Linked DNA regions of Homo sapiens: region 1 is linked to region 2. Evidence: fine-mapped expression QTL. A gene starts in region 2. The other region holds a variant in brackets. All regions are shown on one strand. Distances are between the middles of the regions.

Region 1 (8,338 bases), 40 kb before region 2:
CATTTTTCGGGAAACCTACAAGTGCTGAGCACCTTTTTCTTTTCTCTCTCTTTTTTTTTTTAATACAATTATAACTAAAGCCTTTTTTTTTAAGCTTCTGTGGCATTGTTGTAGGTATTACCCTAGTCGTTTATTCTTTTAAAGGGCAATTCTTGGCCAGGCACGGTGGCTCACACCTATAATTCCAGCACTTTGGGTGGCCAAGGTGGAAGGATGGCTTGAGACCGGGAGTTCGAGACCAGCCTGGGCAACAGAGCAAAACCCTTTCTCTACAACAAAATTTTAAAATTAGCCAGGTGTGGTGGTGCACGTCTGCACTCCCAGCTACTCAGAAGGCTGAGATGGGAGGATCATTTAAGCCCAGGAGTTCGAGGCTTCAGTGGGCCACCATCCTGCTACTGCACTCCAGCCTGGGCTACAGAGTGAGACCCTGTCTCTAAATAAATAAGTAAAATACCCTGTCTCTAAGTAAATAAGTAAAATTAAGAGCAATTCTCAAAAATGTATTAACAATATTCCCACAATCACATCTACAAATATAATTAGATAAGTAAGGGGAATTTCACTCACTCATTTAGCATATATTTATCCAATAACTATAAAGGGAAAATACTGTATTGATTCAAAACAGCTAGATGTTTTCTAAACCAGCAGAGCTTACTATGCCTCTCATCGCTGTAGGATAAAAATTTGACACATAAAAAATGCTAAAATATTTTTAAAAGGTCGTATATAATCAAGTCTCCAAGTTAGGCTTTCACACACCAGCATCTAGGGCTGGAATTGTGGCTGCCCTTTTATGCTGCTTTTGATTATTGAGAATGATCATCACCTGGAGTCAATTCTATTATGCTCTTCAACTCTCTCTACTCAAATCCTTATTTCTGGTTAATGAAAGTTTGAAGGTAATCTAAAAATGACAAATTAAACAAATGAGACAAATGGCAAGGATCTTTTCATACAAATTAAAAATCCCTAACCTAATCTCCATAAATTGAATAAAGTGGAAAGCTGAGATAATTATCCAAGCAAGTCAAGATTCATATTTTAATTGATGTTCAAATAACCAAGTGGAGAATTTTTCATCTAAATTGCCTCAATTCTCCTGTTTTCTTCATTAAACTCTACCTTCATAAGACTCCTGAGTCTACAGGAAAAAAAAAAAGCTAAATTTGGATTACTTGAGGGCAGGCACAGGAGGAAATGGGGGGGAAGGGAGAATCACTTTTTAAAATAAGAAATTTTTGCATGAAATATGCAACCAAGGGATAGTGAATGTTACATAATTAGAACTGTAGGTAATCATGTGTCTGTTAATTAAGGTTCAACTCTATATTGTACATGGTTTAAGAATAGCATCACCAGAAAGTTATAAATAATTTGGGACAGGTAATTTAAATTTGAAACAGTGATTGGCAATAGTGCTAACAAATGAACTTTTAGAGAAAAGAAAATGATGATACATAAAATCATTTGCCATGGCTTAAAAAATGAAGAATTACAGAACATACAGTGGTATCATTAGGAAAACTCAGATCAAAGTATAATAGAGAAAAGGTGAATTTAACAGGCAAATTTTGGAAAATAAAGCATTTAGAATAGTGAAATTATTTTACATAAATCTATTCAACATTTTTACAGTTTAAAAAGAACTTTTAAATGCATTATCTTATCTGATTCTCACCACTGAGAAGTCATACCTATTTTACATGAAACTGAAACTCAGAGTGGCTTGTCCAAGATCACACAGCTACTAAATAACAGATTTGGAGCTTAATCCAAAAGCTTTTGATTCCAAGTATAGTGTTCTCTCCACAATACCACCCTTAATCCTCCAGAAATGGAGATGAGCATATTTTTATGGAAAAAATAAAATAAAACTTGACCAATCAGACATAAATCGTATCACTGAATTTTAGAATCTAGGGTTAAATGTTGAATCACAAATGTTCAAATTTAGTCTTTTAATTTGTATTTGTAACATATAAATAAAAATGGTCCTACCTTTATAAGTCTGGTAGATAGAGAAAAAGGTTATTTCAGCCATTAATCAAGTATTTATTGACTATCTTACTATATCCAGACACTGGGAACACAGTACTGAACAAAATAGGCAATAGTCTACCCTCACAGAGATTTTAGTCTCAAAATAAAGATAATTAACTAGGAAATTCCAACAAAGTGAAAGATTAAAACAGAGTATAAGAATGCTATCACGGCTGGGAGCGGTGGCTCACGCCTGTAATACCAGCACTTTGGGATGCCAAGGCAGGCAGATCACCTGAGGTCAGGAGATCGAGACCAGCCTGACCAACATGGTGAAACCCCGTCTCTACTAAAAATGCAAAAATTAGCTGGACATGGTTGCGGGTGCCTGTAATCCCAGCTACTTGGGAGGCTGAGGCAGGAAATCACTTGAACCCGGGAGGCGGAGGTTGAAGTGAGCTGAGATCGTGCCACTGCACTCCAGCATGGGTGACAGACAGAGATTCTGTCTCAAAGAAAAAAAAAAAGAATGGTATCATAAGGTACCAGGTACCATGGGAGTAGAGAATTAAGTTGATGGCATACGTACAATGTTAACAAGTTTGGCCTTATACCAAGGGTAGAATGTCAAGTCATGGAAGATTTTTAACTGAAGAGGAATATGACCATTTTTTAGATTTAGAACGATTAACTATAGTATGATATGTATCCATTAAAACAAGCAATAACAATTAGACATTTTTCATATTTTAAATATATACAAAATTGAATGATCACAATTTTATCATTACTTATTAGACATTAGGACTAGAAAATGAAAGTGAGAGGTGAAGCCGGCTGGCTTCTGGGTCAGGTGGGGACTTGGAGAACTTTTCTGTCTAACTAAAGGATTGTAAATGCACCAATCAGTGCTCTGTGTCTAGCTAAAGGATTGTAAATGCACCAATCAGTGCTCTGTGTCTAGCTAAAGGTTTGTTAATGCACCAATCAGCACTTGGTAAAAACGGATCAATCAGCACTCTGTAAAACGGACCAATCAGCACTCTATAAAATGGACCAAGCAGCTCTCTGTAAAATGGACCAATCAGCAGGATGTGGGTGGGGCCAAATAAGGGAATAAAAGCAGGCCACCTGAGCCAGCAGCAGCAACCTGCTCAGGTCCCCTTCCACACTGTGGAAGCTTTGTTCTTTCGCTCTTCACAATAAATCTTGCTGCTGCTCACTCTTTGGGTCTGCGCCGCCTTTATGAGCTATAACACTCACTGCGAAGGTCTGCAGCTTCACTCCTGAAGTCAGCGAGACCATAAACCCACCAGGAGGAATAAATAACTCCAGACGCGCCACCTTTAAGAGCTGTAACACTCACCGCAAAGGTCTGCAGCTTCACTCCTAAAGTCAGCAAGACCATGAACCCACCAGAAGGAAGAAACTCTGGACACATCCAAACATCAGAAGGAACAAACTCTGGACACACCATCTTTAAGAACTGTAACACTCACCACGAGGGTCCACAGCTTCATTCTTGAAGTCAGAGAGACAAAGAACCCACCAATTCTGGACACATTTTGGCGACCATGAAGGGACCATCACCTTTCGCCAAGCAGTGAGATTATCGCCTATCGCCAAGTGGTGAGTACCATTGGACCACTTTCACTTGCTATTCTGTCCTATTTTTCCTTAGAATTCAGGGGCTAAATACCAGACACCTATTGGCCAGTTAAAAGTGACTAGCACAGCCGCCGGACTAAAGACACGGGTGTCAGGCTTTCTGGGAAAGGGCTCTCTAACAAACCCCGACTCTTCAGAGTTGGGAGCATTGGTTTGCCTGGAACCAGCTTCTGCATTTCCCGTACTTCTGGGCTGAGCCAAGGGTCGACAGAGGGGAAAGTCATTCAACTCCAGGGTCCCGACAACAAGTTGGTTGACCCTGCAGCCATGAGTGAAACTCAAAGTCATGTCGCCCAAGCAAGACTCATCCATCTATCTTGATCCTTGCCCCCGGGTCCTAAC[G/A]CCTGCCAGATAAACTTCCTCTCACCTGTCTTCTCCAAGGCTAGTCCCGCTTATAAAAACCACTCGCTCTCTCTGGTGCTTTTCTAGTTTCTCCTATAAGAATGATTTCTAGTATAAACTCCAGGACTCTGTTACCTTCTTTTGGCACCTGGGCTCACCAATCAAAAAGACATAATTTTTGCCCAAAGCCCCGTCATAGGGGAGACTATCTGGAATTTTAGGATCCCTCCTCAGACAAGCAGGCCTAATAAAGGCTATTCCTACAGCTAGGATATGGGGAGCCTCAGAAATTGTATCCTTCCTATTCATATAAGTGAAGATAAAAGGCATCAGTCTTCCAATTCTGGAGATCCCTCCCCTCCCTCAGGGTATGGCCCTCCACTTAATTTTTGGGGCATAACATCTTTATAGGACATGGGTAAAATCCCAATACTAACAGAAGAATGCTTAGGACTCTAACAAGTTTTCGACAATGCTTCAGTAAAGGTGACTACATTGGATTTTTCTCGGTCCTCTTTGTGGTCTAGGAGGACAGGCAAGGGTGCAGGTTTTCGAGAATGCATCAGTAAGGGCCACTAAATCCGACCTTCCTTGGTCCTCCTTGTGGTCTAGGAGGAAAACTAGTGTTTCTGCTGCTGTGGCGGTGAGCACAACTATTCTGATTAGCAGGGTCCAGGGACCGTTGTGGGTTCTTGGGCATGGGGAGAAACAAACCAAAACCATGGGTGGTTTTGTCTTTCAGATGGGAAACACTCAGGCATCAAAAGGCTCACCCTTGAAATGCATCCTAAGCCATTGGGACCAATTTGACCCAAAAACCCTGAAAAAGAGGTGGCTCATTTTTTTCTGCACTATGGTCTGGCCCCATTATTCTCTCTCTCTCTCTGATGGGGAAAAATGGCCACCTGAGGGAAGTATAACTTACAATACTATCCTGCAGTTTGACCTTTTCTGTAAGATGGAATGCAAATGGAGTGAAATACCTTACGTCCATGCTTTCTTTTCATTGAAGGAGAATACATAACTATGCAAAGCTTGCAATTTACATCCCACAGGAGGATCTTTCAGCTTACCCTCATATCCTAGCCTCCCTACAGCTCCCCTTCCCATTAAGGATAAGCCTCCTCTAATCTCCCCGGCCCAGAAGGAAATAAGCAAAGAAATCTCCAAAGGACCACAAAACCCCCCAGGCTGTCAGTTTTGTCCCCTTCAAGCTGTAGGGGGTGGGGAATTTGGCCCCACCCAGGTACATGACCCTTTCTCCCTCTCTGATTTAAAGCAGATCAAGGCAGACCTGGTGAAGTTTTCAGATGGTCCTGATAGGTACATAGATGTCCTACAGGGTCTAGGGCAAACCTTCAATCTCTTTTGGAGAGATGTCATGCTATTGTTAGCTCAAACCCTGGCCTTTAATGAAAAGAATGTGGCTTTAGCTGCAGCATGAGAGTTTGGAGATACCTGGTATCTCAGTCAAGTAAATGATAGAATGACAGCTGAGGAAAGGGACAAATTCCCTACTGACCAGCAAGCCATCCCCAGTATGGATCCCCACTGGGACCCTGACTCAGATCATGGGGACTGGAGTCATAAACATCTGTTGACCTGTGTTCTAGAAGGACTAAGGAGAATTAGGAAAAAGCCCATGAATTACTCAATGATGTCCACCATAACTCAGGGAAAGGAAGAAAATCCTTCTGCCTTCCTCAAGTGGCTACGGGAGGCCTTAAGAAAATATACTCCCCTGTCACCCAACTCACTACGGGGTCAATTGATTCTAAAAGATACATTTATTACCCAATCAGCTGCAGATATCAGGAGAAAGCTCCAAAAGCAAGCCCTGGGCCCTGAACAAAATCTGGAGGCATTATTAAACCAGGCAACCTCAGTGTTCTATAATAGGGACCAAGAGGAACAGGCCCAAAAGGAAAAGTGAAATCAGAGAAAGACCACAGCCTTAGTCATGGCCCTCAGACAAACAAACTTTGGTGGTTCAAAGAGGTCAGAAAATGGAGCAGGCCAATCACTCGGTAGGGCTTGTTATCAGTGTGGTTTACAAGGACACTTTAAAAAAGATTGTCCAATGAGAAACAAGCTGCCCCCTCGTCCATGTCTGCTATGCTGAGGCAATCACTGGAAGGTGCACTGCCACAGAGTGCAGAGGTTCTCTGGGCCAGTAACCCCCAATAAGAAGACCCAACAACAGGACTGAGGGTGCCTGGGGCAAGCACCAGCTCATGTTATCACCCTCACTGAGCCCCGGATACGTTTAACCATTGAGGGCCAGGAAATTGACTTCCTCCTGGACACTGGTGCGGCCTTCTCAGTGTTAATCTCCTGTCCCAGACGACTGTCCTCAAGGTCCGTTACCATCCGGGGAATCCTGGGACAGTCTGTAACCAGGTATTTCTCCCACCTCCTCAGTTGTAATTGGGAGACTTTGCTCTCTTCACATGCCTTTCTTGTTATGCCTGAAAGTCCCACACCCTTATTAGGGAGGGATATATTAGCCAAAGCTGGAGCTATTATTTACATGAATATGGGGAACAAGTTATCCATTTGTTGTCCCCTACTTGAGAAGGGAATCAACCCTGAAGTCTGGGCATTGGAAGGATAATTTGGAAGGAAAAAAATGCCCGCCCAGTCCAAATCAGGCTAAAAGATCCCACCACTTTTCCTTATCAAAGGTAACATCCCTTAAGGCCTGAAGCTCATAAAGGATTACAAGATATTGTTAAACATTTAAAAGCTCAAGGCTTAGTAAGGAAATGCAGCAGTGACTGCAACACCCCAATTCTAGGAGTACAAAAACTGAATGGTCAGTGGAGACTAGTGCAAGATCTTGGACTCATCAATAAGGCAATAATTCCTCTATATCCAGTTGTACCCAACCCCTATACCCTGCTCTCTCAAATATCAGAGGAAGCAGAATGGTTCACTGTTCTGGACCTCAAGGATGCCTTCTTCTGTATTCCCCTGCACTCTGACTCCCAGTTTCTCTTTGCCTGTGAGGACCCCACAGACCACACATCCCAACTTACACAGACGATCTTGCCCCACGGGTTTAGGGATAGCCCTTACCTGTTTGGTCAGGCACTGGCCCAAGATCTAGGCCACTTCTCAAGTTCAGGCACTCTGGCCCTTCAGTATGTGGATGATTTACCTTTGGCTACCAGTTTGGAAGCCTCATGCCAACAGGCTACTCTAGATCTCTTGAACTTTCTAGCTAATCAAGGGTACAAGGCATCTAGGTCAAAGGCCCAGCTTTGCCTACAGCAGGTCGAATATCTAGGCTTAATCTTAGCCAGAGGGGCCAGGGCCCTCAGCAAGGAATGAATACAGCCTATACTGGCTTATCATCACCCTAAGACATTAAAACAGTTGCAGGGGTTCCTTGGAATCACGGGCTTTTGCCGACTATGGATCCCCGGATACAGCGAGATGGCCAGACCACTCTATACTCTAATCAAGGAGCCCCAGAGGGCAAATACTCATCTAGTAGAATGAGAACCAGGGTCAGAAACAGCCTTCAAAACCTTAAAGCGGGCCCTAGTACAACTCCAGCTTTAAGCCTTCCCACAGGACAAAACTTATCTCTATATGTCACAGAGACAGCAGGGATAGCTCTTGGAGTCCTTACGCAGGCTCATGGGATGAACCCCCAACCAGTGGCATACCTAAGTAAGAAAATTGATGTAGTAGCAAAAGGCTGGCCTCACTGTTTAAGGGTAGTTGTGGCAGTGGCCATCTTAGTGTCAGAGGCTATCAAGATAATACAAGGAAAAGATCTCACTGTCTGGACTACTCATGATGTAAATGGCATACTAGGTGCCAAAGGAAGTTTATGGCTATCAGACAACTGCCTACTTAGATACCAGGCACTACTCCTTGAAGGACCGGTGCTTCAAATACCTATGTGTGCAGCCCTCAACCCTGCCACTTTTCTCCCAGAGGATGGGGAACCAATCAGCATGACTGCCAAACTTATAGTCCAAACTTATGCCGCCCGAGATGATCTCTTAGAAGTCCACTTAGACTGATGGAAGTTCATTTGTGGAGAATGGGATACTACGGGCAGGTTATGCCATAGTTAATGATGTAACCGTACTTGAAAGTAAACCTCTTCCCCCAGGGACCAGTGCCCAGTTAGCAGAACTAGTGGCACTTACCCGAGCCTTATAACTGGGAAAGGGAAAAAGAATAAATGTGTATACAGATAGCAGATATGCTTATCTAATCCTACATGCCTATGCTACAATATGGAAAGAAAGGGAGTTCCTAACCTCTGGGGGAACCCCCATTAAATACCACAAGGAAATCATGGAGTTATTGCACTCAGTGCAAA
Region 2 (8,338 bases):
GATTGGAAAAGAAGAAATAAAATTATCTATGTAATTTTTAAAATCCTATTTGATTTAGCAAGGTTGTAGGTTATAAAATGTAAAAGAAAAAATAAATTGTAACTCTCCAGATAAGCAATTAACAATAAGACCAAGCAATTTGTCCATTTTGTCTAAATTGTCGAACACAGTGGGTTAAAGTTGTTCATAATATCCTCTCCTTATCCTGTTAATGTGTGTAGAATCTGTATTAATGTCCCTTCTTTCAGTCCAAAAAGATTTAGTTGTTTGGTCTCTTTTTCTTTTGATTAGTCTTATTAGGGCTTATTGATTTTATTAATATTTTCAAAGAATCACAGTTGGTCTTTTCTCTATTGTTTTTGTCTTTTCCCTTTCATTTATTTCCACTCTTACCTTTATTATTCCTTCCTCTTTGATTTCCTTTTTGCTTAATTTGATTTTTTTAAAAAAATATTGATTTGGTTGATTTTGCCCTTGATTCTAGGGCATAACCCTTAGTCATTGGATGTAGTCATTAATTCTAAGATGCTGCTCAGTGGAATGTCCAAAGTTTTCACCCGGTCTGTATAACTTGGAAATATTTAAATTTCCGATATTTGAATTTAAATATTCAAAAATACACTGTCTTCCCAGCATCAGATGACTGCTGAAATTTCACTTTATCTCTTCCAGTCTTCCAACTGTTGCTGTCCATTGGGTTCTTTGGGTCTTACCACATGCATGTACTGTTATAATGTCAGCCAAAAATTTGAGGGGATTTTTTAGACAGATTTTGGGGTTCCCTTTTCAAGGTTCCTGCCCCAATTTTCAGTTGATCTGGCATTTCCAAATTTCAACTTCTGAGTGTTTTAGAATGGGAAGAATGCTGCTTTATACTGACACTCGATATTCCCCATGTACTGCACAGACTAATGCCCTCATGAAAAAAAGCTGGATAAATGTGGATCTTACCCACTATTTTTCCCATCTTTCAAGAATTGTATACCTTCCTGTGTTTTCATGCTATTTTGGTTGCTTTCCAGGGTCTTTGAAAAGAATCTCTTCCTTGTCCAGAGTTTATAGTTGTTATTTGCAACAGGGTCTGTCCAACATAAGCTACTGTGTCACTTCCAGAAGCTAGAAGTCCCTCTTTTATTTTTTGATTATTATCTTTGAAAAGTATGGAATCTTCCTGGATCAACTATTTTCAGCAGATTCATGCAGCATTTAAGTCAAAGCCATATCCCAGCAATTTTTCTGTGTGACACAGGATTTTATAGACAGTCTAGGTAAGAGATAATAAGTAGTAGCAATAAAGGTAGTGACAAGTGGTCAAATTCCATTTTCTTTTATTAACTATTTTATGTGCCAATATTCTGTTGTTAGAGAGTTCAGACAAGCTATAAGAAACTAAATTATCTTTTCTCTTTCGGCATTTCTCAAAACTTTTAAAATCAAAAGAATGGCATGTATTTTTAGTGACAGAAAAATATGCTTTGACAAATTGTTCTTTATTTCCTGTTTCCAAAAAGAGCTTACGGTTGTCTGGTGCAAGCATCATAGACATTGCAGATTTCTGGCTACATTTCTATCCCCTCTCTTCCATGCACAGCCCAAGTTCAGCTAAATTGTCTGACAAAAATTTTCATAGATGCTATGTAGAGAATTGCTGAAAGGAAGATGAGTGGAATCTGTGAGAACAGAGTCACCTCCAGTGCCTAAATAAGAAATGATTTCTGTAAAGAATATCTAGGAAGAAAATCAATAAATTGTTCACGATTGATTAGTCTGCAGGGAGTAATGTGGATGAACTTAAGTTTCTGGCTTGTGCAATGAAATGGATGGTGTTGTCAAGCCCTGAGACAGGAAACAGTAGATATAAGAGAGGAAAACATATACGATTTTCAGCTTTGGAGTATGAGATGTCCTTGAGATTTTTATTTAGAGGCACCTATCTAATCTCCATCTGCAGTATTGCCTCCATTTTTTTCTACATCATATGCATCTTATCATAGTGTAACTATGAATTTTTTAACTCCCATTTTTAATAACTAACGTTTCCCAGAAAATAAAGCAAACAAAAGGGAGCAAATTCTTAGTCTGGCATTTGAAGTATTCCACACTCTGGCTCTTTTTTTTTTTTTTTTTTAACTTTTCAACCTTATTGGCCATTATTCTCTACAAGATGGTGGTTTATAGTTTCTACATAATTAGGAAACACAGACAGTTACAGAGAAGGCCTAGTGAAATTCCATTAAGGCAAAGGTAGTAAGCAGAATATTGTGATTTGTTTGCTTAAAACCTTGAGATGAAAAGCAAAGTGAGTAAAAGACTAGATGACCAGGCACGCTGGTTCACGCCTGTAATCCCTGCACTTTGGGAGACCGAGGCGGGTGGATCACCTGAGGTCAGGAGTTCGAGACCAGCCTGGCTAACGTGGTGAAATCCTGTCTTTACTAAAAAATAAGCCGAGGCTGGGCACGGTGGCTCACGCCTGTTATCCCAGCACTTTGGGAGGCCGAGGCGGGTGGATCACGAGGTCAGGAGATAGAGACCATCCCGGCTAACACAGTGAAACCCCGTCTCTACTAGAAATACAAAAAAATTAGCCAGGCGTGGTGGCAGGAGCCTGTAGTCCCAGCTACTTGGGAGGCTGAGGCAGGAGAATGCTGTGAACCCAGGAGGCGGGGCTTGCAGTGAGCCGAAATCACACCACTACACTCCAGCCTGGGTGACAGAACGAGACTCAGTCTCAAAAACAAAAAAAAAAATCAGCTGATCAGCTGGGCGTGGTGGCACACGCCTGTAATCCCAGCTACTCTGGAGGCTGAAGCAGGAGAATCGCTTGAACCTGGAAGGCAGAAGTTGCAATGAGCTGAGATCAGGCCATTGCACTCCAGCCTGGCCGACGAGAGCAAAACTCTGTCTAAAAAATAAAAAATAAAAATAAAAAAAAGACTAGGAATTTTCCTTCTTGTACACCTTCGTGAAAATAAGTCTTTCTATTTGTGCAAGTTTAGAAACTGCAATTACAGACTTCTTGGCACTATGGAGCCTAATGGTCAAGCAACCCTGCAATGGAGAGACAGTATAAAAATTATCTGGACAATGCAACACTTTATCACTTGTTCAGAAATTTGAGAGGATGAGAATAATTAAGATTTCTGATAATGTGTTATGATCATGTATTTATTGCTACAGTTAGTTATATATTTTTTGGCACAATGTTTACCTGCTAATCTTAATGGAGTTAAGATAAAATTCAATTGTAGGCATTTTTCCCTTCTATTGGGTTAATTAGTCCAAGCGAACTGAGCAAAGGTTGCAGGGAGCCCCAGCATGGCTGAGGAAGACCTGGTGAGGCATCCACTGGCTGCTGGGAGGAGAGCATTAGAGGTACCTTCTGAACAGCACTGTCCAATAGAAATATAATGCAAGCCACATATATAATTCTAAATTTTCTAGTATTTATACTTAAAAAGCAAGAAGAAATAAGATGACTTTCACCCAACACTGCTTCCAAATAAGCAGTACTCTGGAGAACACGAGAAATCCTCAGAAAAATAAGCTGCAGCTCTGAGGTGCTGATTATGGTAGGGCAATCAATACAGATCAAAACATGGCACAGGGAGCTTAAGTTCCTAGGGAGAGTAGAAAATCGATAGAGCCAAGAAATAGCTCACCTTTGACTTATTTTTAACCTGAGTAGCTATCATATGCCAAGAGCTGTGCAGTTTTCATTTACCCCATGCCAAGAACGTAAGTAGGCTCTACTGACCAGGAAGTTAAGTAATATGCCCGAGGTACGTTTTCAATGGAAGAGGCTGACTGAGGGTCACCCAACTTATATCTCGAAATTTCACAATTTCTACAAGTTCTGTCCTGGGAGGCAAGAGTAGGTGAAACGAGCACACTCTACGCCAGGCAAACAAACCTCAACGCTTAGCCTCCCGGCACCTCCTAGGGCCGGAAGCTTCTCAGCCCAAAGCCGCTGCTGGCTGCAACCTCCGTCCCGCAGTCCAATTAGCAGCCGCGACCCGGCGCCCGCCCACGCCGCGTCACGAGTCAGCCAAAGATGGCTGCGCCCAGGTAATTTGAGCAAAGGCCACAGTGAACTCCGGCGTGGCTGAGGAAGGAGGAGGCACCCACAGGCTGCTGGGAGGAGAGCATAAGGTACTGGTATTCCGGGGGAGGGGGTGAAGTAAATGTCCCGGTGTCAGGAGAAGCACGACGCGGTGACACGCTAGCTACCAGCAGCGCTGCGCGTAAATGAGAGCAAGTAGAAGTGTAGTTAGCTCTTCCTGCTGTCTTTTCACTTTGCACTCTAGAAGGAAAGACCTTATATTTAAATTAACTCAGTAGAAAGGAGAAATGCCTGAGATTGAATTTAATCCCAGGTTTACTGTCAATTTACAAGGTGACCACGGCCAAATTTGATTTTCAGAGGTCCCACTTTACTTCTCTTTCAGATAGGCCCCACACTGCCTATCTCTCAGAGCTCTTCCAAGAATGACATGAGATAGGTAACACAAAAATCTTTCGAAATATTTGTAGTTTTTACAGGCGGCGTTGTCTTTGATAGATATTTGTTATTAATATCGGAGACAAAATGCCCACAGGGGCTGCCCAGTCAGCACTTATACTGAATTGAGTGACTTAATTGCCCTCAGTACAATATATACATACTAAATTTGATTATATATTTCACCACCCCATACACAAAATCATTCAGAGCTCCTGTACAGCAGAGATTGTGTCTTATCATCTTATCGTAGCCAAGGCCCTCAAAAATTTGACTACCAGAAACCTAGACATAAATTTCTAAGGCTGCTTTGTACTTATTAGGTTAGCTTTAAGTCTAGAGATATGGAATGTCAAGGTAATCAACATTTCCAAATGACCTCTTATCGATATAAAACAGGTAGCAATAAATATTTAAACGAGTGCCTGTAATGTTGTAGGAAATGAGAAAATCTGGTTTCATAAAAGCATGTTTTCCTTTGTTGTTATCCCTGAACTGTTTTTTTTTTTTTTTTTGTAGACCGAGTCTCGCTCTCACCCAGGCTGGAGTGCAGTGGCGAGATCTCGGCACACTGCAACCTCCACCTCCCAGGTTCAAGCGATTCTCCTGCCTCAGCCTCCCGAGTAGCTGGGATTACAGGCAGCTGCCGCCGTGCCTGGCTAATTTTTGTATTTTTAAAAGACAGGGAGTTTCACCATGTTGGCCAGGCTGGTCTCGAACTCCTGACCTCAGGTGATCCGTCTGCCTTGGCCTCCCAAGGTGCTGGGATTACAGGCGTGAGCCACTGCATCCAGCCTTTGTTTTTCTTAACTGTTACCCTGAAACCTGAGCCAAATCTTCATCATTCACCATTCCCTTCACATTTTCACCCTAACTAGTGCAGACATCAACAAACTACTGGCATGTAGGCCATATGCAGCCTATAGCTTGCCTTGGTACAGCCACCCAGCTAAGAATGATTTTTATGTTTTTATAGTTTTTTTAAAAACAAATATTCAACAAAGGCTGTATGTTACCTGCAAAGCCTACCACATTTACATCTGGCCCTTTAAAGTTTGCTGAGCCCTGATCTCAGGTATACCTAGAAATGAAATTGCTAGCTATGTGTGTCTTCTATCTGCTAAATAATACCAAATTCTTTCCCAAAGTGACTGTACAGTTTGGGTAAAGCTACCCCACAGAATGTACACAGAATGTAGTTTTAGCTACCCCGCATTCTTGCCAATAATTGGAATTGTCAGATTTTGATTTTAGCTAACCTATGGGTACCTATTGGTATCTCACTGTGGGTTGTTCCCCCAGTTATAATGAAGGTGAGCATATTTTCATGTTTATTGGCCATTTAACTTTCCTTTTTGTGAAGTGCCTGTTCAAATATTTTGTCAGTTTTTCCGTAGGGCTGCTTACCTTTTTCATGTTGATATGTAGTTCCATGTATGTTCTGGGTACTAACTACTCTTTTGTCAGTTCTATTGCATTTTCTCCCCCACTAGCTTATCTTTATGGTATATGTTGATAACCATAGGTTCTTAACTTCAATACTGTTAGTTTTATAAGTCTTTTATGTTTAGTGCTATTTGTGAATTGTTTAGGAAATACTTTCAAGGATTATGAAGATATTCTGTATTTCCTAAAAGCTTTATGTGTTGCTTTTCATGTTCTGGTTTCTGTTTCACTTAGATTTTTTTTTAATAATATGTATGCAATGATTTTTTTCAGATTAGCTCTACAGTATTATTTTTAGTCTTCAGAAGGTTTTTAAAATTCTTTGTATAAATTCTTGAGAAATGATATCTTCATGTTTTTTAAGGCTCAAAATGGAAAATCATAAATCCAATAATAAGGAAAACATAACAATTGTTGATATATCCAGAAAAATTAACCAGCTTCCAGAAGCAGAAAGGTAAGATCCCTTCTTAATTTAAAAACACCTTTTATCAGGTGGATTTTCACCATTGATTCATTATCTCAAGTTTATCTGGTTTGAGTATAAACAACATGGAATGTGAGAAGGAAATTGCCCTTTTCTTGCCTGGATGAGAGCGTTTAACCATTTTGCTCAACATCACATAGCTAATTGTGGAAGGTGAGGCTGGAACTCATGTCTTTGGACATACCTAATTGTATAATGTTTTGAGTTTTTCCATTAGGCTTGGAGTATAGTAAAATGTAAACATTTACAGACCCATTTAAATAACAAAACTTTAACTTTTAAAATGTCTTTTTTTTCCCAGTTCATTCTGTCAGTATGCTTACCAGTCTAAGAGTACCATAGAACACACATAGCAAGATAGAGAATGTCAGAGAAATAGGATCATGGCTAAAGATCTTTAAGATATTATTAAAGAGGGCCAGGCATGGTGGCTCACGCCAGTAATCCCAGCACTTTGGGAGGCCAGGGTGGGCAGATCACCTGAGGTCAGGAGTTCAGACCAGCCTGGCCAACATGGTGAAACCTCATCTCTACTAAAAGTACAAAAATTAGCTGGGCGTGGTGGCAGGTGCCTGTAATCCCAGCTACTTGGGAGGCTGAGGCAGGAGAATTGCTTGAACCAGGGAGGCGGAGGTTGCAGTGAGCCGAGATCACACCACTACACCCCAGCCTGGGCGACAAGAGTGAGGATCCGTCTCAAAAAAAAAAAAAAAAAAAAAAGATATTAAAGAGAAAAACCAATATAGGGAACATACTAATCTTTGCCAGGCAGCTAATGTGTACTTCCACAAAATGTCTTACACTTTGTTGACAGTCAAGAAGGTCTCTCTGACTATAAAAGGATGAAAAGCAGCCACCTGGGAAGGAGAGAGGGACAGTGTCTTAAGTAGAGGGAATGGCATATGCCTAGCCACAAGATAGCCAAGGCTTGTGGTACTTGAGTAACCATTGTTACCGAAGTACTAAGGAAGTGGGAGTAAGGACCAGGAATAGTTTTGAGCAGGGGGATGATGTTAGCATTTCTAAAGAACATTCCAGCTGCTTTTTGGAAAGCAGATTTGAGGTAGGAAAGAAAGGAAACACAAATACCAGTAGAAAAAATGGCACAGTAATCCTGGTGAGTGGAGATGGTAGGGGTGGTGACAGCTGAGATGAAAAGAGGATGCATTTAAAATACATTCTGGAAGCATAATCTTGCTATCTTCAGGAATAGAAACTGAACAAATCCCCATCTTGCTGCCACTTACCATCTTAATCAGGGAGAACCCATAAATCAAGACCAGTAGTGTTCAGAACAAGGATCTCCAAGGGGAAGAAAAAAAAGGCCAGTAGTAAGAACTTGGTGAGATCTTAAAAGCTCTTTCACCCCCCCTCCCCACACTCCAACTCCACTCCCTTCTAGTTGTTTTCCTGAGGTAACGGAAAACCTTTTAAAGCAAAAAAGGAACTATGTCCATGTTTCCAGGCCAGCAAGATAGGGAAAGTGAGAAAGACTAATAAAAGAGTAGTAGGCTGGGCATGGTGGCTCACACCTGTAATCCCAGCACTTTGGGAGGCGGAGGCGGGCTGGTCACCTGAGGTCAGGAGTTTAAGACTAGCCTGGCCAACATGGCGAAACCCTATCTCTACTAAAAATACAAAAATTAGCCAGATGTGGGGGCACGTGCCTGTAGTCCTACCCACTGGAGAAGCTGAGGCACGAGAATTGTTTGAACCTGGGAGGCGGATGTTGCATGGAGCTGAGATCATGCCACTGCACTCCAGCCTGGGCGACAGAGCAAGACTGTCTCAAAAAAGAGTAGATGGTGGCAGCTTTGAAGAGAAGAAAGCAGTCTGTCACTGGGTTCTTTACCAAATTAGAAAGAATACCTGGAACTGCAAAGTAAAATTTAGTTTAGAGGCAA

Alleles and levels. Alleles are on the strand shown, and positions count from the first base shown. SD is a standard deviation of normalised expression in the study named.
With allele A in place of G in region 1, the expression in tibial artery of the gene that starts at base 4,030 in region 2 is lower (small effect, 0.34 SD a copy in GTEx).

Evidence for each region.
Region 1: its variant is fine-mapped to the expression of TMEM126A in tibial artery (GTEx, PIP above 0.99).

What each region holds. Positions count from the first base shown.
Region 1 is chr11:85,603,480-85,611,817 of GRCh38, forward strand. All of the region lies in intron 2 of DLG2 (discs large MAGUK scaffold protein 2), which reads right to left. Among named protein-coding and RNA genes, the nearest start is that of DLG2, 20 kb to the right of the region's middle. RefSeq lists enhancers at 2,558-3,757, 4,500-5,459 and a silencer at 5,873-6,073. The variant G/A (reference allele first, on the strand shown) is at 3,997.
Region 2 is chr11:85,643,938-85,652,275 of GRCh38, forward strand. TMEM126A (transmembrane protein 126A) reads left to right here and starts at 4,030. Exons shown (of 5, transcript NM_032273.4): 1 at 4,030-4,152; 2 at 6,312-6,404. The coding sequence starts at 6,319. RefSeq lists enhancers at 3,791-3,840, 4,011-4,280.